Homo sapiens: one gene and its partners. The protein of the gene in region 5 purifies or fractionates together with the protein of the main gene of each other region. This does not show direct contact. Each region holds a gene or a part of one and is shown on either strand. Other genes may lie near its edges.

Region 1 (4,795 bases), on a different chromosome or scaffold from region 5:
AGTCATTATTAAGTGTGCCGACGCTGGGTTCATATCCTGGTTCTGGTGTGGCCATTTGGCCACTGTGTAACTTCAGGCCCCTGAAATAAACTCTCCGTGACTCAGTTTCCTCCTCTGTAAAATTATAATCGTAGGATCCATCACATAAACCTGTCAAGAGGATGAAATAAATTCACGTTCATAAAGTTCTTAGCTAAGAAAGTGTTGTCTGGCCGGGCGCGGTGGCTCAGGCCTGTAATCCCAACACTTTGGGAGGCTGAGGCGGGTGTATCACCTGAGGTTGGGAATTCCAGCCTGACCAACATGGACAAACCCCGTCTCTACCAAAAATACAAAATTAGCCTGGCGTGGTGGTACCTGCCTGTAATCCCGGCTACTCGGGAGACTGAGGCAGGAGAATTGCTTGAACCTAGGAGGCGGAGGTTGCAGTGAGCCGAGATCATGCCACTGCACTCCAGCCTGGGCGACAGAGCGAGACTCCGTCTCAAAAAAAAAAAAAAAAAAAAAAAAAAAAAGAAAGTGTTGCTTTGAGAGCTGGTTCACCATTAACTGTGGCAGGGAAGGTAGGGGTGTTATGGTCACAGCGGGTGTAGACTCCGAGGGGGACGTGGGGTCTTCTGGGAGGCCAGGAGATTGCTAAGATTACAGTGACCTGGAGGTGTTCATATGTAAAGAGTCACTGAGGACCCACCTGGGCAACACAGCCAGACCCCGTCTCTACAAAAACTAAGAAAATAGCTGGGTGTGGTGGCACCTGTAGTCCCAGCTACTCGGGAGGCTGAGGTGGGAGGATCACTTGAGCCCAGGAGGTTGAGGCTGCGGTAAGCCAAGATTGCACCACTGCACTACAGACTGGGCGACAGAGTGAGACCCTGTCTCAAAAATAAATAAGTAGGCCAGCTGTAAATAAGTAAGTAGGCTCACGCCTGTAAACCCAGCACTTTGGGAAGCTGAGGCGGGTGGACCACCTGAGGTCAGGAGTTCGAGACCAGCCTGGACAACGTGGTGAAACCCTGTCTGTACTAAAAATATAAAAATTAACTGGGCGTGGTGGTCTGTGCCTGTAGTCCCAGCTACTCCGGAGGCTGAGGCAGGAGAATCGCTTCAACCCGGGTGGCGGAGCTTGCAGTGAGCCGAGATCACACCACTGCACTCCAGCCTGGGTGACAGAGCGAGACTCTGTCTCAAAAAAATATTAAAAAGAAAAAAAAAACACCAGCAATGAGCTTCATTTCTTCTCTACACGTGTCCTGGAGCAGGTCGTCCCCTCTCTGTGGCTAATGCCTCCTTCTAGTGGCCACTTGCCCGTCTTTGAGCTGGACTGTGAGTCCCACCTCTTCCCCGCCTCGGACCTCCCCTCTGGCCACCCCCCCACCCAGTTCATTGCTCATGCTTCTACCAGGGAACTCCTGCCCTGCCTACCCCTCCTACGAGAAATAGCGCTCCAACCCCATTACCCCTCCCCTGCACCCACATCCCTCCCCTGCCTGCCCTCCTCCCCGTCCCCTGGCCTCTAGCCCTCAGGTCTCTGCCTGGACTGTGCCCCCTGCCTGGCAGCCCTTCGGATGTTTCTGTTCACACCTTGATATGCAGCTCTGGCACTGCCACCTCCTCCAGGAAGCCCCCCAGGCTGCTTCCCCATCCCCATCCCCTTCCTCAAGGAGTCCCTGAGCCAGCAGGGACAGTTCTAGGAAACGTCTGGGGCGAGTCCATTTTCCAGATGAGGAAACTGAGGCACGGAGATGAATAACAACCTGCCCAGGGCCACCCTGATGGGGCCGGGTTAGAACCCACAGCCACGAGCATCCAGGAGAGAGACCCCCTGCAACCTGGGCCCCCATCCCCCGCTCCGACTCCCCCCATCCTGAGTTTGGGGCTCGGGGACTTGAACCCAGGGGACCTCTCCCTGGTTCCCTCCCTATATGGGAAGGACAGACAGGAGCCAGGGGGAGTTTCAACGTTTATTGAGGTCACGGTGGGCAGTTCCCCCTCCCCTCCCTATATGGGAAGGACAGACAGGAGCCAGGGGGAGTTTCAACGTTTATTGAGGTCACGGTGGGGTGAGGTGCAGGGCCGGCCTGTCTCCCGGAGCCCCGTGGGAGGGAGTGTGGGGGGACGGGTGGGGCCGTCCCGGACGCCACAGTGTTCGGGGAAGAGCTGCTTCTGTCCAAAGATCCGCCTCGAGGGTTTGGAGCCAGGCTCGGGGTCCCGGCCAGCGCTGTGGGAGGGGCGGTTCAGGGGCGGCCCTTGGCCTCCACACGGCGCAGCGTGGAACGGATCCAGTCCACGTAGAGGGCTACCCGCGTGAAGAAGTCAGGGAAAAGGCGGGTGGCACATCCCCAGATCACGAAGGAGTCTATTCCTTGGATGATGCCATCACAGATCAGGGGGCCACCTGAGTCTCCCTGGAGGACAGGGACGGCCAGTCACCCATCAGGGGCCACCTGAGTCTCCCTGGAGGATGGGGACGGCCAGTCACCCATCAGGGGCCACCTGAGTCTCCCGGGAGGATGGGGACAGCCAGTCACCCGGGCTGGCCCCAGGCAGCCAGGAAGGGGGCTGGGGTAGCCACAGCTGTTTCAGAATAAAATGCTTCCAATATGGAACTTTCTTTCTTTCTTTCTCTCTCTCTCTCTCTCTCTCTCTCTTTCTTTTTCTTTCTTTCTTTCTTTCTTTCTCTCTTTTTCTTTCTTTCTTCTTTCTTTCTCTCTCTATCTCTTTCTTTCTTTCTCCTTTTGTTTTGTTTTGTTTTGTTTTTGTTTTGTTTGCGACAGAGTCTCGCTCTGTCACCCAGGCTGGAGTGCAGTGCCGTGATCTCGGCTCACTGCAACCTCTGCCTCCCGGGTTCAAGTGATTCTCCTGCCTCGGCCTCCCGAGTAGCTGGCTGTCTTTCTCTCGAGACAGGGTCTCGCTCTGTTCTCCAGGCTGGAGTGCAGTGGCACAATCATAGCTCACTGCAACCTCGAACTCCCCAGGCTCAAGTGATCCTCCTGCCTTAGCCTCCTGAGTAGCTGGGCCTACAGGCTCACATCACCATGCCCAGCTAATATTTAAATTATTTGTAGAGATGCCACCCTGCTATGTTGCCCAGGCTGGTCTTGAACTCCTGGACTCAAAAGATCCTTCCGCTTTGGCCTCCCAAAGTGCTGAGATTACAGGCGTGAGCCACCACTGCTGGCCTGGAATTTTCTTTAAAATGTGTGAGCACCAGCCAGGCATCACTTGATGCCAGGAGTTCAAGACCAGCCTGGTCAACATGGAGAAACCTCATCTCTACTAAAAATACCAAAAAAATTAGCCAGGCACGGTGGCAGGTACCTGTGCACCTAGTTACTCAGGAGGCTGAGGCAGGAGAATACCTTGAACCTGGGAGGTGGAGGTTGCAGTGAGCTGAGATCTCACCACTGCACTCCAGCCTGGACAACAGAGCGACACTCCGTCTCAAAAACAAACAAAAAGTGTGAGCAGGGAGGGGCTGAGGTCTTTCGTAGGAACTGGGCATTTATGGGCCTCCCGCTGGATACCTGGAGTCCTGGATTCTGGAAGGGGCCGCCGGTGAGGGCGGATGGGTCTCCCACACCTTCCTGTGGTCCTAGAGGGGAGTGGGGGGCAGGGAACCCCCAGACCCACCCAAGCAGCCAGGTGCAATGTGAGCGCCCCCACCCCGCTGAGCCTGCCCGTTGGGTGTTGGGTGTGCCCACCTTCCAGGTGGGGAGACTGAGGCACAGCATGAAGCCACACAGCTAAGAGGTGGCGTGGAACCCTGGCCGCCGCCCTCCTCCCCTCATGGCAGCCCGGTGCCCGGGGTGGGGGCACGGTTACTTACGAAGCAGATGCCGGCCTTGCGGCGAGGGACGAAAGTGCAAATGTTATGTGGCCGGCAGAAGAAGGTGACCACGGTGACATTGAGCTCCTGCAGGACCTGGGCTGGGGGGTCGTGGGCACCCACGCGGCCCCAGCCCATGGCCAGGCACTGGGTGCCGTGGGGCACTGGCTGGTCCTGCTGTGGCAGCTGGACTGTGGCGACGGAGGCACTGAGGTTGGCTGGGCTGCTCAGCTGGGGCAGAAGGCAGGCGGCGGTGAGACGCTGCTTCCAGGTCACGGTGGCCGCCCGGGCCGCCCTCCCACCACACCCACCACACCCACCACCTCAAAACGCCGCGGATGCCGCTCCCTCCGCCTGGGCCCCACGACCCCCTTTGTCCCATTTGTCACTATTGTATTCATTCATTTTCTTTCCTTCTTTCTTTCTTTTGAGATGGAGTCTTGCTCTGCCACCCAGGCTGGAATGCAGTGGCGTGATCTCGGCTCACTGGAACCTCCCGGAGCCATCCCATTGGGTGAGGTGGCCAGCCTGGTCTCAAACTCCCAACCTCAAGTGATCTGCCTTCCTCAGCCTCCGAAAGTGCTGGGATTACAAGTGTGAGCCATAGTGCCCGGCCATTCATTCATGTTTTCTTTCTTTCTTTCTTTTCTTTTTTTTTTTTTTGAGATGGAGTTTCGCTCTTGTTGCCCAGGCTAGAGTGCAGTGGCACAATCTCGGCTCACTGCAACCTCTGCCTCCTGGGTTCAAGCAATTCTGCTGCCTCAGCCTCCCAAGTAGCTGGGACTACAGACACCTGCCGTCACGCCCAGCTAATTTTTGTATTTTTAGTAGACACGGGGTTTGCCATATCGATCAGGCTGGTCTCAAACTCCTGACCTCAGGCGATCCGCCCGCCTCGGCCTCCCAAAGTGCTGGGATTACAGCCACCGCCCCTGGCCCATTCATTCATCTTCAAAGCACTTTTTTTTT
Region 2 (5,956 bases), on a different chromosome or scaffold from region 5:
AAAGAAAAACAAAATAAAATCTCACCAAAAATAAAATTTTGGGAAACTAAAAACTGCCTTTCTTCCCTTATCTTTAGCTTCCACATTTTTGTCAGGAAACTCCTCTTAACTGCCTAAAACAGGCTTCCAACAATGAATGTTTTTTAATTAAAAAAAATCCCATTTCAAATAGAATGATTTTATTTTGCATGCCTGTTCGTTACCTGGTAGGCCACAGTAATTCTTCCCATCTGTGTTGGTTGCAACATTTCCAAATCCCTGTTTATATGGATCCCATTTCCTGCCAAAGTCAACACTACCGTCTTGACGGTTCTGAATCACTGTCCATCCTTTGGTTGACAGAAACAAAAAGAGCATATATTAACCAACAGCAAATAATGTCACTTTGAAAATAATATCTGAATCCCCTGTCCATTCCATTTAGTATATATTTGGTGCTCTAAAATAGACACAATAAGGAAATAAATATGAGAGGTAAACTTGTAAAATCTTTGGAAACTGCAAGTGCTTTATCTTACCCCAAATTGTGAATTATAGATATTTTATAACTTTTTAAATATCAGGTTGAATTCCACATCAAATTACTCTTTGTCAGCTATGTTAGATGTTAGAGCTAAGTCTTGTTTCCTGGCTTTTTAATTAATTTTTTTTTTTGAGACAGGATCTCACTATCCTCTGTTGCCCAGGCTACAGTTCAGTAGCATGATCAAGACTCCAGGTTGTGGGCTCAGGTGATCTCCCATCTCAGCCTCCTGGATAGCTGGGACTACAGGCACATACTACCAACACAGCTGATTTTTTTTTTTTTTTGGTATTTTTTTTTTTTTTGTAGAGTTAGGGTCTCATTATGTTGCCCAGGCTAGTTTCAAACTCCTAGGCTCAAGCTATCAGCCCACTTTGGCCTCCCAAGGTGCTGGAATTACAGGTATGAGCCACCACACCTGGCCTTGTTTCCTGGCATTTTACGGTATCCAAATAATTACAGATCAACAGGTCAACAACTGTCGAAAGCTTACCTCCATTTTCTGTATTCATGTCACAGTATACTCTATACGGTTTGACAGAACTGTCAGGTTGAATGAGATACATTTCAGATGTTTCACCTCCTTTCCTGATAATTTCCTCACATTCTGCAAATGTAAGACAACATTATGTTCAGGGGTTTATGACATAATTACTTTGTATTTAGTCACCAATTCTTTAAAATAACATTACATAAGTTACTAAGGAGTGTGTTATTATAGACCTTTGAAAATAATATAACAAATATTAGATTTTCATTTTACTTTAGTAAGTCCAACCCAGTTTTGAGGACGTTTATCTGCTAAGAGGATGAACAAAGCTCTTCTCCACCTTTTGTGTCCTGGAATATCCATGAGCTCCCAGAACACACAAAATGGAGAAACTTCTACATCTATCTGTGGTTCTGCCATCTGTTCAAGCCAGTACGCAGATGCACACATCAGCCACCCCTGGGACTACCTGTGCCCCATCCTGCTCATCAAAACCAGCAAATGCACCAGGCCAGTCCAAAACACAACTGGCTAAGGATATTTTTATGATGTACTGTAATGTCATTATGATCTGTTGGGAAAATCCACTTAGCATTTTTGTTGTTGTTGTTGTTCTCTTATTTTTGGTGTGTGAGTTCTTCTGGAACTCTCTAAAAATATGTTTATGAATCAGTTACCTTTGCCAGACACCACAGGAATATTGCAACTGACAGTGCATGGGGTGCGACAATATTCCATTTGAGCTGAGACATCAGATTCTAACTTTTGTATTTTGCTTCTCAGGTTTTCCAGGATTGAACGAAGCACACGAAGGTTAGTTGGGATATTGCTATTCACAGTCTCATCTATATATAATTGGTGCTTTTCCAGTTCTGAGGAGTACTCATTGACTACATTTTCATTATCTGGAAAAATGAAATTATGTAGAAATAGTTAGCATTTTTGCCTCATAAAACTAATGTATTTAACTATACAATTTTGATTTTCTGAGAATAAACTATTAAACACTGAGCTATCACCAAGCAGTTATGATATATAGTCATATTTAGTGGAAATGATTTGGCGCATGACATATACAAATTAACATAAATCCTAACCACCATACTAGTAATTTACCATAGGTATACGCTAAAGATTGTGTCCAGTAATAAATGAAATAGGTTGTTTATTTCTTTGGTGAGGGAAAAGAGGAGAAAGCAGTATTGGGGTCTTCCATCTGAGAAGTTCAATCTTACAGAGTGGATATGCTTGATTTATTTATCCATTTCACATAAGTATAGCAGAACCTTGAAATTTATAAGATGTCATGATTCCTTTGATTTCTTTGAAAAATTTCCAACTGTGGGTATGCTACTCACTGAGATGCCTGTGCCAGGCTCACGCACTAGCTGTTTCCTGACCACCAAGTCAACAGCACTCAACATTCTGACCTCAAGATTCACAGGTTAGGTGTCATTATCCACAACACAATTGAATATATTATGGATAACTCTCTCATTCAAAACCTCAAATGTTAAAACTATAAATGCTAGGGGTTTTTTTCCACTCTGTAAATATTATCTTCTGAGTCACAAGTTTCTTGTATACTTAAAATAAGGAGTCATAGTAGAATTTTTCATAGAAAATCACACTTGCTGATGTCAGACTGGGAATAAGAGCTGAATAGTGCTTATCTGGCAAGTTGCAGGGGAAGGTGCCCAAAAGCGTATGAATGCTATTCACTAACCCAGAAATGTTAATCTTCTCACAACCATGCATTCTCGTGGCAGTCTAACGGTTCCAATTTTATAGCTGAAAATCGAATGGAAAGCACAAGGATATCTACCTTTTACTTGCTTCTGCCTCTTTTGCCACAGGTCTTTCAGCAAATACATGTACTGAAAGGAAGAAGAGGAGGTCTGGGAAACAGCTTCCACATTGTTATTTAACTCATCAACACTATTTCTGATTGGCCTTTCCTGTTGTAGCAAAGCCTCTTGCAACTGACATCCTGTAGGACACAACACCCCCTAAAAACAAAGAAAATAGCAGGCATTAGATGAAGGATTTGGGTCATGGACATTTGTTAAAATAGCACATAGGAAAATTCAGCGATACGATTAGCCAACATAAAAATTTATTATTTGGTTTTCTGTAAGACCAGAAATTCGAAAGTCATCATCATACTCTCATAGAGATTTAAAATATTACTTACCCCAGAAAAAATATAATTGGGCTATGAAAATTTTACCAACTAAACAAAGGCAGTGGCAAAATACAAATGGAAAGGTGGCACCCACATATCCTAATTTGAAATTTTGGGCCCAGACCAAAGAAAACAAGAAAGAAAGCCTAAACCAAAGGCCCAATATGTTTATGTTTTGAATTTTATTTCCAAAATAAACAAACAAAATAACAGTGATGGTAATGTGGGTCAGTGAAACATTAGCAGACTGCCATGACTACAGGCTTTCTCTGCATGAGAGAGCCACCACTGCAAGAAACATCAGTGCACCCACCAGGTCTGGGTCAGCGTGAAGACAGCCTCCAGCATCAGGGGCTTTTCTTTCTACTTTCTTTTGAGTGGCAGCTGCTTTGGCTGGACGAGCCCGATAGCCACCTCCACTGATGGGCGGTGGGGCAGGCCTCAGGCTGGGAGCCTCTTCTCTCTTCTTGTCAAGGGGTCGATGACCACGGGCACTGAAGAAACCCTACAAGGAATGAGGCAGAAATATAATACAGAGTGTTATAGAAGATTTGGAATGTAACTATTCCAACACCCTCATTTTATAATTTAGGTTATCACAAGCTTGATAATTTGCTTAAGATCCATCAACTGGCTGGTTGGTGATAGTGAATCTGTAGGTTGCTTACTGTTCAGTAACAGTAGAAAGACCAACTGCACAAAAAAGCTATGATGCAGTGTAGTTTTTAAAGAGAGGCCTTAGGATAAAGCTGTATCAGATTATGAATAGTAATGACCTCATATTCCTAAAACATACATTGGAACTTACGAAATTGTAAAGAATCTATACTGTCAAGAAGAATGAATATTCTCAAGCCACTTGGATTGTTAGATTCCTATGATTATTGTTAATCATTTCCCTACTTTCATTTTTGTGAATTGGTGATTAGACTCCTATATAAACATATTTAAGAGACATTAAAGACTTATTAAAGGTTGATTCTACTTGGAATTTATTTGTAATAAGACAATCTTTGACCCTCATAATGTACTCTGGAGCTCGGCTACTTGTAGGTCTTGACCGTAGGGTTGACTTACAGCTATGAGACCTTGGGCAAGTTGCTTTATCTGTGCCCCAGTTTTCTCATCTGTAAAATAAGTGTAATGATAGTTTGAATCTGCCTTACAAGATTATTGTAAGGATTAAATAACTTATTGCATATGGTACCCTCAGAACAGTACTTGGCAATAATAAGTGCTCATTACTATTTTTACTGGAATCACACATAACAAGTACTACAGTTTAAGTGTCCTCTCCACTTCGAATTTCACTTTTAGTCTTATCTTCTATCAACAAAATTATTTGTTAAACCATTATCTTGAAATTTCTTACATGATTTCTTTATCAAACATTATGATTTTCTTATATTTAAAATAATTCTCAAGGCTTGTGCATTGTAATTAAAATTACTTGCTAACTTAAAATATTATATTAAAGGATAATGAAGCAGAAAATACGCATTGCAATAGGAAAGTTTTGATTTGGATTAACTACATTCTCATTTTTTTTTTTGTCAGTAGCTATACATCCTTTGGAGCTTAATTACAAATTAACAAACGACATGATTTGGAACAACTGAGCAACAACTGAGCTCTCTTGCAATTTTGTGAGTCTAGAAGTCATCAGATGAACTCTATTTGGAATTGCATTGTCATTTATTCATTAGATTATAATATTATTTAACATTTAGTAGGATGGTGCTAAGATTAAAACCCAGCCAGGCTGGTTCCAGATTTTCCTGTTTAACCAGTTGACTATATACATTCTTAATATGTAAAGATTCGGAGGATATATACATATTTCACATTGAAGTCATGGTCCTAGTCAGAGCTTACCCTCTCTAAAACAAATTTTAAGAAATGTGATTCATCTGCTTATTACAAATACAATTATAACAGAGAAAACTATTTTCTTTTTATTTCAGAGTGCCACTAGAGAGGTAGCATGGATGGTCTGGCTTTACTAGAGAAAAGGAAATTTTAAAAAATATTTAAAGAAAGTATATACTTAAAGAAAAACACTTAAAGAAATTATGAAGGCCACTTGTTGAATAATCAAAATCCATTTTAAAGCCTAAACTATTAAACTATCTCTGTGAGGTTTAGTTGATAAGCAGAAATGTGAAAGTGCTTTGCAGAGTACTTTACAAAAATTTCGTCTTACACATTCTTTACATTTTTCTTACCTAATATGATTAACCAGACTTAACCAGATTAACCATATGTTTTTACACACACAACCAGATTAACTATATGTTCTTACATGTAGAGTCTGATAAGTACAACACTCAAGTTCCCTTGAAACTCAATAATGATCCGAAATGAATCACTTCATTTAAATATTATTGTGTATTCTTATTTCTAGTTTAATGATACTATGCTATATGTAAGAAATTTGGCCATGATACGTTTGATGATAAAATTTAAATTTCTTAAATATCCATTGTCCTAAATGCATTTCTGTATTTTTAGTAACTGCAAATTAACAGCAATAAGTCAGCAAAAATAATAGTTGAGGACAAACTGTTCTACAAATAAATAAATTAGACTGAACCGTGTTTCATAACTATTAATAATAACAATACACACTAACTCTAATTTGAACTTTTCATCTGAAAAAAGCAATATTTCATTTTCTATCATTACACTTGATGTATTTTGCTTTTAGGCTTAGTTATAATTTTTATAAATAGTAATCTCAGTAACAATATATATTACC
Region 3 (6,507 bases), on a different chromosome or scaffold from region 5:
AACTGGAGACGGCCGGGCTTGTCAGAGAGCAACATGGAGTTTGGTGTTGCTGAAGCCCACAGGCTGAGGCCAGGAGATGTTGCTAGGGAGGAAGGCAGAGAAGATGAGTGATCAAGAGAATGCCAGAGCTTTTCTCTTACCATTATTTTACCAGAAGCCACTTACTTAATACAATCAGACAATTCTTTAAGAAAACTGGGGAGTAGCTTGTTCTTCCAGGAAACTTGGTGCTGAAGAGAACTACCAGAGGAAAAGGTGTAAGTGACTGTGTTCTGAGAGGCATTTTTTTAAGAGTTTGACTGTTATTTTCCAGTTTCTGGCTATTACTTCTTTCACAGGTTCTAGAATATAAGTGTGCATCTTATTGGCCTACTGGCGCTAACCTGTTGAAGTTTATTGATGAATCTGCAGGGTGCCTGTGAGGAGAGCTTCACAGAGATGGCCAGACCTTGGTGAGAGAGAGTGACATCAGTGTCGTTTTACACCCTACAAAGGAGGGGCCGTATTTTGGCATGAGAAGAAGGTGCACTGGTGATTGGTGGTATTGAAAGCTTATAGCAAGAAAAAGTTCTGTTAGAAGAGCTTCTGTTTCTCAGAGTTCCAGAACCTTTCTTCTGGGAGACCCTTAATAGCATGACCTGCCATCAGGAGAGGAGGCTCAGACAGCCTGCATTTGATTCCTGGTGCAGGGTGGGTTTGTTCCCAGTAGGAAAAGCAGCTTCTACTGATGCAGGGACTCTACCTCCCCACTCTTTATGGAATACCAGAAGGTTATTGCTGATAGGGACATTAGCCATCGCCTGGCTCAAGTCCTTCATGGAAGAGACCAGGAACTGATGGCCAGGAAACCTAAATTACTTAGCAAATTTATGGGCCATTCTGTGATTTGGACTCAGTAAGTCCAGAGATCCTGCCTTTACATCATTGTCTTTTGTTTTCTGGAGTGCTGGTAGGTTAGATCCCAAACTCTGAAGTACTGTCTGTGTTAAAACACTTTTTCCCCATCCCATTTTGAGCTAGCCTCTTCCTCAACCAGGCCCATGCCTTTTCTCCTAATTCACTTTGAGGAGGCAACAGCATGCAGTGAAAGGACCTCTGAGTTTGTATCAAACAGACCTGGGTTCAAAGTTCTGCTTCCCTGTTTCATAGCTATGTAACCTTAAGCAACTCACTTACCATCTCTGAGTCTCTGTTTCCTTGTCTGTAAAACAAGGACAACAGTTAACTTTCTGGGACCTAGCATTCAATAGGCACTCAATCAGTGAGCATGATTCCCTAAGGTGGAAGAGTTTGTATCACCTTCGGGATTTCCAGTGGGTTTAGGGTGTTTTCTGCCATACTCCCAGTAGACTCTATACCTTCTGACTACCCTGGACCATAAAGGAGCAAATAAAAAAGACTCAAGACTGAACACAACACAGAAATGGGTCAAAAGAAAGCTCTTTATTGATTGACTCAGCAATGCAGGGCTGGCACCCATCAGCTTCAAACCACATCTTATCGCATCCACTCCTGTCCACTCCCGTCCACTTTGCCCTCTTCCAGGCTGAAATCTTGCTTTCAGGCAAGGGCTTCCGGCCAGCCTTGCATTAGTTCTCAGCTATGGTCTTCTGAACCCAGTCCTGGATGGAAGTCACCTTCACATACACACCATACTCAGCCACAGCACAGCTCTTATCAAAGCTTAAGATCCCAGTCGCATACCAGGTGTCCTCCTCCAGGTCGTGAACGGCAAAGGCACTGCCCGCATCGCCATAGCAGGTGTCTTCTTGGTACTTAGACATGCCAGCACAGAAGGTGTGTTCATTCAGTATGGGCTGCACCCCTACAGGGCTCTTCGGTGTCTTCTTTTCGGGGACTGTGCTGCCTTCATAATGCCTTATGCATTGGTCTTGGTCAGCCACAGGCAGCATGACATACTTCAGATGGTCAGTAAATTTAAAATTGGCATTTCGCCCCCAGCCAGAAACATAACCCACACGCCCTACTTCTGCATAATCCTTTGAAGGTAGGCAGATGGGCATCACTCTCTCATTAACAGACACCTTCTGTTTGAGTTTGATGAGCCCAATATCTACCTGGGAGTAGTTAGGGTGTAGAACAACCTTCTCAATCTCTACAAGCTGCTTTTTCCCCACATAGAGTGTTAAAGTAGGGGCAATGTCTTTCGCTGTTGCATTTTCTGAATGGTTCAGGAAGAGATTTTTAGCCGTGGTCAGCAGCCATTGTTCATTGATCAGCGTGGCACCTGTGGTGAGATTATGGTGGGAAACCATCTTAGCCTGCCAGGGAAAGCTGCCTTTGGCATCCAGGTGTCCACCCAGGATCCGCTGCACTGGGTTTGCCGGATTCTTGGGCTTCCCACATACTGTCAAGGAGAGCAAGACACTCGTGAGTGGAAATGTGCAAGAGCCTTTCCATCTGAGAAAGGGGTGAAAGCATGGGCGGCTGTCACTGCTGCGTAAAGTAGAAAGATTTAAATGCTTTGCCCTTACCACCTGCTGATCTCATTTCCAATAGTTGCAGTTTTAAAATAATTCTGTTTTTTAAATTGTTTACATTACAAAAAGCTCTATTTCCCACTTTTCTAACAAAGGAAGTGGGAAATACTGAGATTTTTGAGCCCTGGCTGGTGAACTGTATTATATTTAAACAATTATCCCAATAAAGGAATTTCCACAATTCCCTGAAATTCATTGAAAGGGCTAGGGGCTACAATAATTCATTCTCTCTAAAGAAAGATGAATCTAGAGCAGCACTGGCTGGAGCTCAGATTTTGTAGATGGTGCAGTTAATACGAGGCAGGTTGGCATTTCCACACCAGTAAGAGCAGAAGAGGCTGGGCCTTTGCCTCTTGTTCTGAGAATGAAAGGAGAGAGCAACAGCTCCTCCTAATAACGAGAAGCAGGAGTTCCAGCCCATGTCCAGCCTCCTGCTAGGCTTCCATGGATTAAGATTTTATGTCATTCCTTGACTTGTTCTCCCTGGAGCTTGCTTCTCCTTAGACCCAGGGCTCTCTAGCAGGCTCTCTGTATGCACAGGCTCTCCTAATCTGTGGGCGATGTAGACAATGGATTCAGCCAGTGCCCTTCAGGCCCTAATGAACAAGACCCTTGGTGACCCTTAGGGAGTCATCACCTAACTGCTTAAGTCTCTCCCTGGCCAGCTGCGGTTCTCCCACATCCCTCCTCCTGGCTCTTGTGTGCTCAGAGGAAGCCGCACTGGAAGGCTGTGCCTCTAGGACGTTCCCCGCTGGACGCCTGCCTGCTCTCTTAAGTGCTCAGCACCCACCTGCTTCACATTCAGGAAGTTTATCTCCAACAGCCTTATTTATCCACTGCTTCTCATTGTTTAAGGTGTACACTCCTGAAACAAAAGGCAAGAAGTGAGCCAAAGGAGAAGTCAAGTCTAGACCCCGTGCAGAGTGAGAAGGCATTTAAAGAGAAGAACTAAAAGGAAGAGGAAAAGGGGACAAAAAGGAAGGGGAAAAGGAGAGAGTATATGAGAAGGAGGAAGGGAAAGAGTGCTGTGCTGGAAGCCAAGTGCCTGGATGCCAGTTAAGCCCAGCAGAACACACTGTGGTCATGGCGGTCACAGCCAAGCAGTACAGGGAGGGCTCAGGGTTCAAATCCTGACTCTGCCTCTTACAGGCTGCCTGAATTTGGGCAAGATACTCAACCTGTCTGTGCCTCAGTTTCCTTATCAGCAAAGTGAAAACAATAAACTCTGTTCAGAGGGATACTGTGAGGACTAAGTGAGCAAATAAGTATAAAGCCCTTAGAGCAGTGCCAGGACAGCAAGACTCACTAGGTGAGGGTGACATCATCATCAGCATTCCTTCTTTTCCCACATCTGCTGGAGATGTAAATGTGACTCTGAGATTTACATGAGGTAGGCTGCATGGCATCGCCTCCCCTTAACAAAACAGAAAACTTGAGGCTGACAAAAGTTAGTCTGCCCAAAGGGCCATGGCTACTGGCGACAAAACGCTTATTAGAATCTAAATCTCCTGGCTCCAAGGAGAGCAACGAACTTTCTGGCGAATCACCTCAGCACCACCCATCATGGAAATGTCAGAGAAGGGGGTTGTATGTAGGGCATGGAGACAGTTGTCCACATCTTACCATCTCCTTCTGTGCGCAGTTTGTAGTAGTTCTTACACTGGTAGCGAACCGAGTGCTCCACATAGCCATGTGCAATCTCGGGGGGCTTCGGGCAGCCGTCATCTGCAAAGAGAGAGAAGCCAGAGAGTTTGCTATTTGGAAATTGTTCCCAGTGAACCGTGAAAAGTCAGATGAGCGGGAGCTGCTCTGCACATCAATCTCCTTCCACCCCGAATAGAAGCTCGCGAACTGTATTATTTTTAAACAATTATCCCAATAAAGGAATTTCCACAATTCCCTGAAATTCATTGAAAGGGCTAGGGGCTACAATAATTCATTCTCTCTAAAGAAAGATGAATCTAGAGCAGCACTGGCTGGAGCTCAGATTTTGTAGATGGTGCAGTTAATACGAGGCAGGTTGGCATTTCCACACCAGTAAGAGCAGAAGAGGCTGGGTCTTTGCCTCTGGTTCTGAGAATGAAAGGAGAGAGCAACAGCTCCTCCTAATAACGAGAAGCAGGAGTTCCAGCCCATGTCCAGCCTCCTGCTAGGCTTCCATGGATTAAGATTTTATGTCATTCCTTGACTTGTTCTCCCTGGAGCTTGCTTCTCCTTAGACCCAGGGCTTTCTAGCAGGCTCTCTGTATGCACAGGCTCTCCTGATCTGTGGGCAGTGCCGACAGTGGATTCAGCCAGTGCCCTTCAGGCCCCAATGAACAAGACCCTTGGTGACCCTTAGGGAGTCATCACCTAACTGCTTAAGTCTCTCCCTGGCCAGCTGCGGTTCTCCCACATCCCTCCTCCTGGCTCTTGTGTGCTCAGAGGAAGCCGCACTGGAAGGCTGTGCCTCTAGGACGTTCCCCGCTGGACGCCTGCCTGCTCTCTTAAGTGCTCAGTGCTCAGCACCCACCTGCTTCACATTCAGGAAGTTTATCTCCAACAGCCTTATTTATCCACTGCTTCTTATCATTTAAGGTGTATACTCCTGAAACAAAAGGCAAGAAATGAGCCAAAGGAAAAGTCAAGTCTGCACCCAGAGCAGAGTGAGAAGGCATTTAAGGAGAAGAATTAAAAAGAAGAAGAAGAAAGGAGGCAGACAGGAAGGGAGAAAGGAGAGAGAATATGAGAAGGAGGAAGGGAAAGAGTGCTGTGCTGGAAGCCAAGTGCCTGGACACCAGTTAAGCCCAGCAGAACACACTGTGGTCATGGCGGTCACAGCCAAGCAGTACAGGGAGGGCTCAGGGTTCAAATCCTGACTCTGCCTCTTACAGGCTGCCTGAATTTGGGCAAGATACTCAACCTGTCTGTGCCTCAGTTTCCTTATCAGCAAAGTGAAAACAATAAACTCTGTTCAGAGGGATACTGTGAGGACTAAGTGAGCAAATAAGTATAAAGCCCTTAGAGCAGTGCCAGGACAGCAAGACTCACTAGGTGAGGGTGACATCATCATCAGCATTCCTTCTTTTCCCACATCTGCTGGAGATGTAAATGTGACTCTGAGATTTACATGAGGTAGGCTGCATGGCATCGCCTCCCCTTAACAAAACAGAAAACTTGAGGCTGACAAAAGTTAGTCTGCCCAAAGGGCCATGGCTACTGGCGACAAAACGCTTATTAGAATCTAAATCTCCTGGCTCCAAGGAGAGCAACGAACTTTCTGGCGAATCACCTCAGCACCACCCATCATGGAAATGTCAGAGAAGGGGGTTGTATGTAGGGCATGGAGACAGTTGTCCACATCTTACCATCTCCTTCTGTGCGCAGTTTGTAGTAGTTCTTACACTGGTAGCGAACCGAGTGCTCCACATAGCCATGTGCAATCTCGGGGGGCTTCGGGCAGCCGTCATCTGCAAAGAGAGAGAAGCCAGAGAGTTTGCTATTTGGAAATTGTTCCCAGTGAACCGTGAAAAGTCAGATGAGCGGGAGCTGCTCTGCACATCAATCTCCTTCCACCCCGAATAGAAGCCAATGGAAAGGCAAGCTCCCCTCATTTCTGGCAGGAACCCCAATGTTCTTTATGGTCCTGAAAGCCCAGAGGTCGAGATAAGAAGGGGGAATTGGGTGTTCTCAGAGAGAGTGCAGACCCGAGAGGGTCAGAGTGGGATGCACACTCCTACCCAACCAAAGACTGACCTGCGATATCCGTGACATCATTGCCTGAGTCCACTGCAAAAAGCTGTCCCCAGAGCAGGAGGGCAATGACAGCTCCCAGGGCACTGCAGAGAGAAGACAAGGAGGAGTGGAAAGCTAGTCTCCCTGCTTCACAGCACATGCATGCATCCACACACACATGCATGTACACACACACACACACACATGCATACACACACACTCCTCCCACTTAGCAGCCAGAAAAGAAAGTCGATATATGGAAGTGCTAGGACCAAGAAATTGCCCCCACACC
Region 4 (5,956 bases), on a different chromosome or scaffold from region 5:
TGGATGTGGGGTGTGTCTCTGATGGTCCTGAGTGAATGTGGGTGTCTGTCACTTTCTCTAGTGGCCCTGGGTGGAATATAGTAGCCCTGTCTCTATTGGTCTTGCATGAAATGTAGTGAGCTTATGTCCACTAGTCCTGGGTGCAGTGTGTTTAGCCTCTACATACTCATCAACTGCTTTATTATAAGTCCAGGAGGGACGCTGTCCAGCACGTAAGTAAGGAACACAGGTGAAGGTATCAGTCGTGTGGCTGCATGTGGTAGAGGAAAAGAGAGCACAACCTCTGTCCATCACTATGGTGACAGAGAAGTAAAAGGTGGATGTATTCCACGGAACACTCCTCAACTGTTAGGACCCCTGAGCTAGACATGTATACAACAATACCGATAAACCTCTAAAACAAAATGCTGAGCAGAAAACCCAAGTAGCAGGATTTCTAATGCTCACTAAAACCTCTATGAACCCAGAAACCGGAAACACAAACCAGCACAATCTGTTCTGCATGAGCACATGTGTCTTGGAGGACTGGAGGACGCATTGCCAAGCACCTAGGCATGGGTGTCTATGAGGGGAAGAGAAAGGCAGTAGGCACAGGAGGTTTGAAGAAAACTGATCATTTAAAATATGAAAGATCATAAAATCAGAGCTGTGCCCTGTAGGAATCTTGAAAATGGTCTGCCATGAACTTAGGAATCTAATTAGCTCAAAGGTCAGAGTCATGATCAAGTAAGATAAAAGGGGTCAGTACCCACGGCTCATTACCCTGCTCTTACCAAACACTGTGCTCTCTCTGATAAAAGCCACGTCTCCAGCCCCGTCTCTCAGACACCTGTGAAAAGAGAAACCATCAGGGGTAAGCACAGGCAGCCCTCCCCAGCCCCTCCCTGTGGAACAGTAGCCCTGGCACTCAGCATCTATGGGTTTCTACTCCCTGCAGGGCAGGGCTCTGAAGCTTTGGGGCATCCCAGCTGGGAAGGTAGGGGCCCCCTCCAGGTAGATACTGAAGAATGACTCAGGTGCTAGCCAGAGGCCCCCATCTTCTGCTTTGAGGGCTAAGAGGACAAAACTTTTTTCTATATAAAGGAGAGTTTTGAAGCCTCTACCCAAGAGGGTAAAGCCTTAGCATCACTGTTCATGTGGCTGTTTTCCTCAGGACTGAGTGTGCAGGTGTGCCCTGGCCAGTGGGGAAGTGTGGAGGCCTCCCTCTGCAAAAATACGCTAGTGCCAGCAGACAGAATGGGAAAAGGGGGAGCTCAGCCTCCGCGTGGGGGCAGAGAGGATGGGGGCGAATCAGGCATTGCTCACTGTCCTTCAGCCACGGGGAGAGGCCCAGGTGGGCAGAAGGACATCAGCCTGGACACTGCAGCGGTCCTGCCCAACCAGGAGCCAGGACTGGACATCTCATGACAAGATGCCTTCAGTCCTGCTGTGGTTAGGCAGGCGGCAGAAATTAGTATGAGGAACCCAGGACAACAGGGCAGCCAAGTTGGATTCAGGGCTCTCTGAGGTAACAGGAGGGCCCACAGCCACAGTGACTGCCCGTGGGGCTGGTGAGAAGTTGGGGGCACAGTTGGGCCCGGAAGGCTGGAGGGGAACACACACTGGGCAGGCCTGCACTCTCTTTGGACACACAGCAGTAGGAGAACAGACCTCCTCTCGTCCCCAAGAGCAGGCTGGGCTCTATGTGGGGCCAGAGAAAAGGCCTCCCGGCCTGAGGCCAAGGGACACTTGGCCACTGACGAGAAGGGGACAGGGTCACTCACTTGAAGGCACCAGAGTAGCTGAAGTACGGTTCCTGGGAGGAGAAGGCACATTTGTTTTCCCCTGTCCCCGCACACAGGCGACACAGGTTGGGGAACTGTCCTTTATCTGCACCGGGAACACAGCTGGCTGAGAAGAACCTGGCCACAGCTGTTAAACACAGAGAAGTGGACCACAGAGTGTGAGCCAGCCCTGGTCACAGCAGGTTACACCTCCCATCCTGAGGTCTCCGTGGGCAAGGCCCCTTCCTCCACCCCTGCAGGAGAGACTCTGTCATGGGGCTGGGAGCTCGAGACATGCACCTCTGCCGAGAGCAGACTCAGCTGTGCCTCCCAAGGGCTGCTAGGGTAACGGATCCTGCCAGCAGGATGTTACAAGCTGGCCAGCCTCACCCCCACCTTGATTCATCCCACACTTTCACCTGCATGATCTGTGTGGCCTGTGCTTACAACTGGAATAGAGCCCCCTGCCTGAGGCCACTCACTATCCCCCAGCCATCTTACCTGCCTCAATGGGCTCAGGTGGACCCGTCCAATTCAAGAATGGACGAAGTGTCCCTATAGGGACATTCCATCCAGCGGTCCTGCGAAGGCCTGTGTGGCAGGACTTCAGACCTTGCAGTTCGTTCAGCTGAAAGCTGCCGCCCTTCTTCACCACAGCCACGGCATAATAGTGAGTTCGTGGCTCTGCAAAGGGGCAGACAGAATTGAAAGTTCTTAGCCTGGACAAGAGGGACAAAAACAACCCATCCTGAAAAGTCTCCGGTGGGAAGGGGGAATGCTGTGCTGCAGTTTCCTCACAGCTCACGTGTGTCCTCCTCTCGTGGGTCAGCGTCAGGAGGAACGGCCTTCATCTGGCCCAGAGCCCAGCGACTCCATTCCCTACATGTGTGATGTGACCCAGACTCCACCTCCACATGTTCCCCCAGTCTTAATCCACACAGCTCAGGGCACAGGCTGAGGCCACCGTGGCCTCTGGGTCCCCAGGCAGAACTCACGTCTTTCGGTCCCGTAGACTTCCGCCGCTACAGGTCGCAGTTTGTAGGGGGCCAGGCCTGCCTCGTATATGAAACCACCATCAAGGGTCACAGCATCGGCCCTGTTTTCCTGAAAGTAAAGAGGCCAGACTGGCTTCAGCAGAAAACTCACCCAAACCCAGCAAGTGGGACTTCAGGACCTCAAAAAGTCTCCATGGCTGGAAGGGTCGTCAAAGGGGTCCGCTTTCCATCCTGTCCCCTCACTTCCTATGAGAGATGGTGAGAGCCAAGGACCCCTGTTTTGGGACAGTGAGCACCAGCCCTCTAAGTCCTGAGACTGGCGCCTGCCCTCTTTCTCCTCTGCCTGCCTGTGTCACTCTCCCGATCACACCCCTCACAGTCATCTATATTTGAAGTCGTTTGTTCTAGATACTTTCTATTTTTGCTCTATATTCATTTCTTTTAAGTTCTGTTTTATTGGATAGAAAATATAGTTATTAAGCTATCCTAAAATTTTCATAAGAAACCATGTTCCTCCGCTTCAGCACATTGCTTCCCACATGATTACATATTTCTTTGGTTTGCAATGTGGGATAGTTTAGTGGTCCCCAACTTTTTTGCCACCAAGGACCAGTTTCAGGGAATGTAATTTTTCCACAGACAGATGGGGAATGGTTTTGGGATGAAACCGTTCCACCTCTGATCATCAGGCATTGGATTCTCATAGGGAGTGCAACCTAGATCCCTCGCATGCACAGTTCACACTAGGGTTCACACTCCTATGAGAATCTAATGCCGCCGCTGATCTGACAGGAGGTGGAGCTCAGGCAGTCATGCTCACTGGCCCTCTGCTCACCTCCTGGTCTGAGGTCTAGTTCCTAACAGGCCATCAACCGGTACCAGTCCGTGGCCAGGTGGTGGGGACCCCTGGGATACATCATATTTTGTGGACTGCTTATTCCTCTAAAACTGGATACATTTTCTAACTTCTGCAGAGCCTTTACTGATTTTGTAGACAGCATAATGTTTTCTCATAATGTGGGTGTTCTATCGTGTATTGAATAATTTCCCCCAATGTTTAGCATTTAAGTTTATTTCTAACTGTTTCCTGTGAAGACTGTATTTTCATGAATATCTTTGTCCTCAGTGTTTTTCCTTGTGACCACTTGTGTCCTTGGGTAGGCAGCTGAGGGTGGAATCCCCCAGATGAGGAGCACGTTTCCCCCTGTGACCCGGGCTGCCGTTGCCATTCTGCTTCCAGAAGACTTATAATACCAATTCAGAATGGCGCTGACCGTGAGGACCAGCTTCACTCTTGAATCACCAGCAGGGCAGGCTATCATTCTATTAGCTGTTATTACTATAGAAAATGTGAGTACTAACAAATCGCTCAGGTCTGATTAGTAAGGGGAACATCTCACAAGTATTTTTTATTAATTATGAATTCCCTCTTACTGGTAACTCTGTTCATATCATTTTTCTTCTATGATTCTACATTTTTTCCAATTTGGGTTATTCTTTTATTTATTTATTTTTTCGAGCGGAGTCACCCAGGCTGGAGTGCAGTGGTACCATCTCAGCTCACTGCAACCTCCACCTCCCGGGTTAAAGCGATTCTCTTGCCTCAGCCTCCTGAGTAGCTGGGACTACAGGCGTGTGCCACCATGCCTGGCTAATTTTTTTTTTTTTGTATGTTTAGTAGAGATGGGGTTTCACCATCTTAGCCAGGATGGTCTTGATCTCCTGACCTCGTGATCCACCTGCCTTGACCTCCCAAAGTGCTGGGATTACAGATGTGAGCCACCACGCCCGGCCTTGAGTTATTCTTTTATAGAGTGTAAATAGTAATCATGTGTCAGAGCTGGCGCATATTCATTCATTCCAGTCCTTTCTAATTTTTTTATTTAAATATTTTCTATGGGCTATGAATTACATTTTCTGTATTTTAGAATATCTGTTTGTTTCGTGATTTAGATCATCATTTAAGAGATTTCTATTTCCTCTACAGTTCTGCTAGTTAACCTGCCCCCTAGTTTTTCAATAATACAAGTTTTATTTTTAACCATTTAATCTATCTCAACTTTATTTGAATGAATGGTATGTAGTACTGATTTCAAACAGGGATCTTATTTTCCGAGATCAGACGAGATCAGACGCGTTCAGCGTGGTATGGCCTTGGACAGGATCTTATTTTAAAAGGCAGATTTTGTGGCTTCTTTCACATATATTCAGATTGAGTAGGTTAGAATAGAGCCTAGGAATCTGCATTTTAAACAAGCAAGAGATGCTGGTGCTGGTTTTTTGTTTTTGTTTTTTGTTTTTTGAGATGGAGTCTCGCTCTTGTCGCCCAGGCTGGAGTGCAATAGCATGATCTTGGCTCACTGCAACCTCCCCCTCCCGGGTTCAAGTGATTCTCCTGCCTCAGCCTTGTAAGTAGCTGGGAATACAGGCATGTGCCACCACACCCAGCTAATTTTTGTATTTTTAGTAGAGGCAGGGTTTCACCATGTTGGCCATCCTGGTTTTGAACTACTGACCTCAGGTGATCCTCCCACCTCGGCCTCCAAAGTGCTGAAATTACGGGCGTGAGCCACCGCGCCCAGCCACTGGTACTGTTTGTATGCAGGTAATAGTTGTAAAATAATAGCCTAAAACATTGATTAAACTAGATTTTTCCCTAAGTGCTATTCTAATAACTCCATTGTATTTATAAGATAATCCTATGAAGTTGCCTCGGGAACTTTTATGCAAATTATTCACTCTGCTGGAGTTGAGTACACATGATTATGGCACATGGCAGGTACACAGAATATATTTGTTGAATGAATGAGTAAAAATCATTTCAGTAGATCTTACATCTCAAAAAATAAAAGGAATCAGAAATCATATACAAGTCATGATACCCTTTTCTCTCTCTCTGAAAGTGTCTTGGACAAAAGTCTTTCTAACACCCAGCACCCTGGCAGGCCCTGCCCCAGCCATGTGATGTGGCAACGGTGACCAGGACAAGCTTCTTTCTCACAGGGTTTAGAGGTCATGACTCTTTTGGAGGATTTCCCTCTCTGAGTAACTTTGCTTTTTGCTGATCCTATGTATTCATCAAATACAACTGATTACATTTCATTTTGGAACAGTTGTTATTAATGAATAACAGTTGTTATTATAGTTTATGTGGAGGCTCCAGGTTCCTCACACATGGTCTCTTGACTTAAGCTCCTT
Region 5 (5,956 bases):
GCTTTTTAGTCTTTGCTCTCCCTGATCCTCAGCTTCTCTGGCCTTTGGACACAACTTCCTGGCCAAAGAGTTGTCAGCTCATTCTCTAGTCATAATTTCTTGAACAGGAAGAAGTCCTGAATTTCAATCCTATTTGTTCTGCTGCTTTTATTCTTAACCAATGGACAAATAGATTAATCTCTGGATAATCCCAGGGGAGCTGATTTGAATGCATCTTCAAATACTCCCCACTCCTAGAACTCTATACAACGTTCAGTGTCACCTAGGGGACCCAGTCCTGCATTCCTGACTTTGAGGCATCATCATCGGGCTGGTCTCCAGGGCTCATAAAGGCAAAGTTGGATCAGTCAGCTTGCACCCACAATGCCCAGAGAAGACCCCTGCCCAGTCCAGGCTATGACAGGACTGAAATTTAACATACACTTACTTCTGCAGGTAGCCTGGTAGGGACTCCTGCTGAAGAAGGTGTAAAAATAACAGGCTTGGACTTGAAATGATTCCTTACTAATATAAGAACTAGGGAAATTGTAATACCCATAAAATAATTTTATCAGTCATTTTTATCCAGTCAGATTTATTGGCAACTTTATACAGTCAAATTTATTGACAATTTACTGAAAGGAAGAGAAGCGGTAAAGCTTCTATCTCTACATTATTTATGCCATAATATACTAAAGTCATGCCTATTATTAAATTCCAAATGCTGTTTCACTCATTCTCTTTCTTCCCCAAGCTTCACCTTCTTTATTCCCAGCAAAATGTAAAAACCCTCTTGGTCTAAAGTTCTCTAGCTGCCTTTAAAAAACACAGATAAGTGCACAAATCGTATGTAAACAGCCCAAAAATATAATAAAAAAGTGAACATTCTCATGTCACCACCACCAGATTTTACCTTTTGTTTATCTTTGAGGCGACTTTCTTTCATCCTTTCAATGGAATTTTTTAAAAAATGGGTAACATCTTTTGGAAACAAACCGATATTTAGGGCTTCAAAAACTGGGGTAAGAAATGGAAAGAGTGCTATAGGAAAATTAAATAGAAAAAGAAAAAATAAATCATAGTGAAAAATGTGAAATTTACCTACAACAATTACAATTTTCTCTACCTATAGACTTCAGGGTTCTCAACCAGGATCCATTTCCTGTATGACCTTTGCCCCTCTTCCTGTATGACCTTTGCCCCTCTTCCATGCCAATGGCTGAGCAAGAGCAGATCCACACATAGGGGCCTCCACTATAGCAGTGAGATCAGTGGTCCCTTCTGCATCTTCAGAGTGACCAAAGGAACAGAATTAAATTCCCTGACTTCTTAGCCTTTATCTACTGGACTAGAGTCTCTTTGGATAGCCTGCTGCTTTAATGAATCATGTTTTTCCATGAAATAGTAGTCAGGATAGAAACAATACGGCAAATGTCCTTCAACTACCATGGAATGAAACTAGAAATCAATAAAAGCAAGAGAATTGCACTTAGGGAGGCTGAGGCAGGCAGATTGCTTGAGGTCAGGAGTTTGAGACCAGCCTGACCAACATGGCGGAACCCCATCTCTACTGATACAAAAATTAGCCGGGCATGGTGGCATGTGCCTGTAGTCCCAGCTACTTGGGACCCAGTCATGAGAATCGCTTGAACCAGGGAGGCGCAAGTTGCAGTGAGCTGAGATTGTGCCACTGTACTCCAGCCTGAGTGACAGAATGAAAATGTCTCTCGAAAGAAAAAAAAAAAGAGAGAGAGAGAAAAGAGAATTGGAAAACTCACAAATATGTGGAAGTTAAACAATACACTTTTAAGTAACCAATGAGCTGAAGTAGAAAGCAAAAGGACAATTAGAAATTGTTTTGAGATGAAGAAAAATGAAGACATGATATGCCAAAGCGTATGGGATGTAGCCAAAGCAATGTTCAGAGGGAAATTTATAGTTGTGAATGTCAGATAATCTCAAATCAATAACCTAAATGTATACCATAACACACTGAAAAATGAAGAGCAAAGTAAAACTAAAGCCAGCAGAAAGGGGGAAAATAATAAAAACTAAAGTGTAACCTAATGAAATACAGATTTAAAAGCAATAAAGAAAACCAAAAATTGGTTCCTTGAAAATATCATCAGCCGGGCGCGGTGGCTCACGCCTGTAATCCTAGCACTTTGGGAGGCTGAGGCGGGTGGATCACCTGAGGTGAGGAGTTAGACCAGCCTGACCAACATGGCAAAACCCCGTCCCTACTAAAAATGCAAAAGTTAGCTGGGCATGGTGGTGGACACTTGTAATCCCAGCTACTCAGGAGGGTGAGAAAGGAGAATTGCTTAAACCCGGGAGGCAGAGGTTTCAGTGAGCCTAGATCACGCAACTTTTTTGAGACTCTGTCTCAAAAAAAAAAAAAAATTATCAAAACTCAAAACTCATGGACATAGAGAGTAGAAGGATGGTGACCAGACTCTGGGAAGGGTAGTGGGGGCGGGGGAGGTAAGGATAATAAAAGGTTACAAAAAATAGTTAGAAAGAATGAATAAGACCTATGGTTTGATAGCACAACAGAGTGACTACAGTCAATAATAACTGTACATTTTAAAATCATTTAGAGTGCAATTGGAATGTCTGCAATTCAATGGATAAATGCTTGAGGGGATGGATTCCCCATTCTCCATAATGCTCTTATTTCACATTTCATGCCTGTATCAAAACCATCTCGTGTACCCCATAAATGCATACACCAACTGTGTATCCACAAAAGTTAAAAATAAAAAATAAAGCTCAAGGCTGGGCGCGGTGGCTCACGCCTATAATCCCAGCACTTTGGGAGGCCGAGGCAGGTGGATCACCTGAGGTCAGGAATTCGAGACCAGCTTGACCAACAGTAAAAACCTTGTCTTTACTAAAAATACAAAAATTAGCCGGGCATAGTATTGCATGCCTGTAGTCCCAACTACTCTGGAGGCTGAGGCAGGAGAATAGCTTGACCCCAGGAGGTGGAGGTTGCAGTGAGCCAACATCGTGCCATTGCACTCCAGCCTGAGCGGCAAGAGCAAAAGTCCATCTCAAAAAAAAAGCTCAAATTTTACCACAAAAGAAAATATCATCAAAATTGGCAAACTTTTAGCTACATTGATGAAGAAATAAGAGATGACTCAGTTTACTAGTCTCAGAAATAAAAGAAGGGAAATAATTACTATTGACATTTAAGAAAAATAAAAATTAGCATAAGGATATTCTCTTAACAATTTTATTATTAGAACAATTGTATAAATTAGATAACAGGTAAAATGGATAAATTCTTTGAAAGACACAAACTACAGAAACTGAGTTGGAAAGAAACAGACAATCTGAATAGATCTATAACATATAAAGGCATTGAATCAGTAATCAAAACTACCCACAAAGAAAAGGCCAGGCCAGATAGTTCCAATAATGAATTCTACCTAATATTTAAAGGAGAATTAATATCCATTCTACAAACACTTTCAAAAACTAGGAAATGAGGGAACATTTCCAAATTCATTCTATAAGGCCAGTATTACCATCATATTAAAACTGGAAAAATATATCACAGGATAAAGAAACTACAGACTAACATATCTTGTAAATATAAATGCACAAATCCTTAACAAAATACTAGCAAACTGGATCAATCTAGCAACATATAAAAATAATTATATACCATAACCAAGAGGGGTTTACCCCAGGGAAACAAGGTTGTGTAATATACCATGTCAATTAAATGAAAACACACAATCGTCTCAGTATGAGTAAAAGCATTTGACAAAAATCCAAAAGACTTTTGTGATAAAAACACTCAGCAACTAAAAATAGAAGAGAATTCTTCCACCTGATACAGGGCATCTATGAAACCCATAGCTAACCATACTTAGTACCTTTCCCCCTAAGATCATGAATGAGACAAGGATACCTCTCTCAGCACTTCTATTTACCTATTAAAACTAACAAATGTGTTCAGAAATATTTGAAGATAGAAGGTCAATATACAGAAATAAACTGTATTTCTGTACGTTACAATATACAATCCAAAAGTGGAATTAAAAAATTGTATTTACCATAACATCAAAATATTAGTGATACACTTATCAGGAATAACATTAACAAAAGTGCAAAACCCAGACTCTGAAAAATACAAAACACTGTTGAAATAAATGAAAGAGTATCTAAATAAAAGGAATCACCACCCCGTGTTCACAGATTAGAAAACTTAAAAAGGTCAAAATGGCAATACTTCTCAAATGGATCTGCAGATTTAATGTATTATCAGAATCCTAGCTAGATTCTTTGTAGAAATTGACAAGTTGATTTTAAAATTGATTTGGAATTGTAAGGGATGCAGAGTAGCCAGAACAATGTTGAAAAAGAATCAAGTTGCAGGACTCATACTTCCCAATTTCAAAACTTACCACAAAGCTCTAATAATCAGGACAATGTGATACTGGCATAAAGATAGAAGTATAGTTCAACAGAATAGAATTTACAGTCCAGAATACATCCACATGTCTCTGGTCCACTGAATTTTGAGGAAGGTGTCATGATCATTGAATGGGGACAAAATCGTCTTTTCAACAAATGGTCCTAGGACAACTGGATAGCCAAGTGTAAGAATAAAGCTGGGCTCTTACGTCACACGGCATATAAAATGAAAATCAAGATGCATCGAAGACCTAAACAGAAGAGCTAAAACTATACAACCCTTAAAAGAAAACCAAGAGGGCAAATCTTCATGAGCTCACAATTGGCAATAGATTCTTAGATTTGATACCTACAGGATAAGCAATAAAAGAAAAATACGCAAATCGTGCATCATCAAAATTAAAGTTCAAAGAAGTTCAAAGAAGATACAGTTCAAAGAAGATAAAGTTCAAAGAACAATATCAAGAAAGTAAAAAGACATGTATAGAATGGGAGAACAATTTTGCAAATCATATGCCTGAGAAGGAAGTTGTATGTAGAATATGTAAAGAACTCTTACCAATTAACAAAAAGAATTCAGCTGTATATGGGCAAAAGACTTGAACAGACATTTATCTAAAGAAGATATAAAGATGGCCAATGTTGCTCAATTTTATTAGCCATTAGAGAAGAGTAAATCAAAATCACGATGAGACCAGTTCACATGTAGTAAGGTGTCTATAAACAAATGAGAAAACCAAGTGTTGGCAAGAATGTAGAGAAATTAGAACCATTATATGCTCCTGGTAAAATGGTGCAGCTGTTGTGGGAAACAGTTTAGAAACTCCTTAAGAAGTGAAACATGGAATTACTACTATAAAACGCCTCCATTCCACTGCTGAATATATACCTAAAAGAAGAAAAATCAAGTATTCAAACATAAACTTGTAAACAACTATTCACAGCAGCACTATTCACAATAGTTGAAAGGTAGAAACAACACAAATGTCCATCAACTATGAATGGATAAGCAAAATGCAGCATATCTTTTTTTTTTTTAGACGGGGTCTTGCTCTGTCACCAGGCTGGAGTGCAGTGGTGCGATCTCAGCTCACTGTAACCTCCACCTCTGGGTTCCAGTGATTCTCCTGCCTCAGGTTCCTGATAGCTGGGATTACAGACACCCGCCACCATGCCTGACTAATTTTTGTATTTTTAGTAGAGACAGGGTTTCGCCAAGTTGGCAAGGATGGTCTTGATCTCTTGACCTTGTGATCTGCCCACCTCGGCCTCCCAAAGTGCTGGGATTACAGGCATGAGCCACTACACCTAGCGCAAAATGCAGCATATCTATACAATGAAATATTATTTGGTCATAAAAAGAAATGAAGTACTGATCCATGTTTCAACATGAATTAACTTTGAAAATGTAATGCTAAATGAAAGAAGCCAGTCACAAAAGACCACATATTATATGATTCAATTTATATGATGTGTGCTAGATTAGGCAAATCTAGAGACAGAAAGTAGATTAGTGGTTGCTTAAAGCTGAGGGGGGTTTTGGGGC

Evidence for each region.
Region 1: the proteins of CYP3A43 (region 5) and PRTN3 purify together in Homo sapiens (affinity purification with mass spectrometry; one large-scale study listed by BioGRID and IntAct). This does not show direct contact.
Region 2: the proteins of CYP3A43 (region 5) and FGB purify together in Homo sapiens (affinity purification with mass spectrometry; one large-scale study listed by BioGRID and IntAct). This does not show direct contact.
Region 3: the proteins of CYP3A43 (region 5) and HP purify together in Homo sapiens (affinity purification with mass spectrometry; one large-scale study listed by BioGRID and IntAct). This does not show direct contact.
Region 4: the proteins of CYP3A43 (region 5) and LTF purify together in Homo sapiens (affinity purification with mass spectrometry; one large-scale study listed by BioGRID and IntAct). This does not show direct contact.

The regions. Positions count from the first base shown.
Region 1 is NC_000019.10:845,409-850,203, reverse strand, and holds the end of PRTN3 (myeloblastin precursor), read right to left. Parts: intron 4,058-4,795; coding exon 3,827-4,057; intron 2,455-3,826; coding exon of another isoform or gene 2,434-2,454; exon of another isoform or gene 2,406-2,433; coding exon 2,235-2,405; 3' UTR 2,029-2,234; downstream 1-2,028. UniProt on the Homo sapiens protein: Serine protease that degrades elastin, fibronectin, laminin, vitronectin, and collagen types I, III, and IV (in vitro).
Region 2 is NC_000004.12:154,563,555-154,569,510, reverse strand, and holds part of FGB (fibrinogen beta chain isoform 1 preproprotein), read right to left. Parts: intron 3,704-5,956; coding exon 3,512-3,703; intron 3,023-3,511; coding exon 2,839-3,022; intron 1,919-2,838; coding exon 1,691-1,918; intron 1,131-1,690; coding exon 1,017-1,130; intron 330-1,016; coding exon 204-329; intron 1-203. UniProt on the Homo sapiens protein: Cleaved by the protease thrombin to yield monomers which, together with fibrinogen alpha (FGA) and fibrinogen gamma (FGG), polymerize to form an insoluble fibrin matrix. Fibrin has a major function in hemostasis as one of the primary components of blood clots.
Region 3 is NC_000016.10:72,055,973-72,062,479, reverse strand, and holds the end of HP (haptoglobin isoform 1 preproprotein), read right to left. Parts: intron 6,320-6,507; coding exon 6,237-6,319; intron 5,951-6,236; coding exon 5,849-5,950; intron 5,089-5,848; coding exon 5,014-5,088; intron 4,227-5,013; coding exon 4,125-4,226; intron 3,367-4,124; coding exon 3,292-3,366; intron 2,369-3,291; coding exon 1,590-2,368; 3' UTR 1,425-1,589; downstream 1-1,424. UniProt on the Homo sapiens protein: As a result of hemolysis, hemoglobin is found to accumulate in the kidney and is secreted in the urine. Haptoglobin captures, and combines with free plasma hemoglobin to allow hepatic recycling of heme iron and to prevent kidney damage.
Region 4 is NC_000003.12:46,453,532-46,459,487, forward strand, and holds part of LTF (lactotransferrin isoform 1 preproprotein), read right to left. Parts: intron 2,868-5,956; coding exon 2,759-2,867; intron 2,448-2,758; coding exon 2,265-2,447; intron 1,912-2,264; coding exon 1,764-1,911; intron 830-1,763; coding exon 774-829; intron 1-773. UniProt on the Homo sapiens protein: Transferrins are iron binding transport proteins which can bind two Fe(3+) ions in association with the binding of an anion, usually bicarbonate. Lactoferricin binds to the bacterial surface and is crucial for the bactericidal functions.
Region 5 is NC_000007.14:99,850,655-99,856,610, reverse strand, and holds part of CYP3A43 (cytochrome P450 3A43), read right to left. Parts: intron 1,021-5,956; coding exon 893-1,020; intron 1-892. UniProt on the Homo sapiens protein: Exhibits low testosterone 6-beta-hydroxylase activity.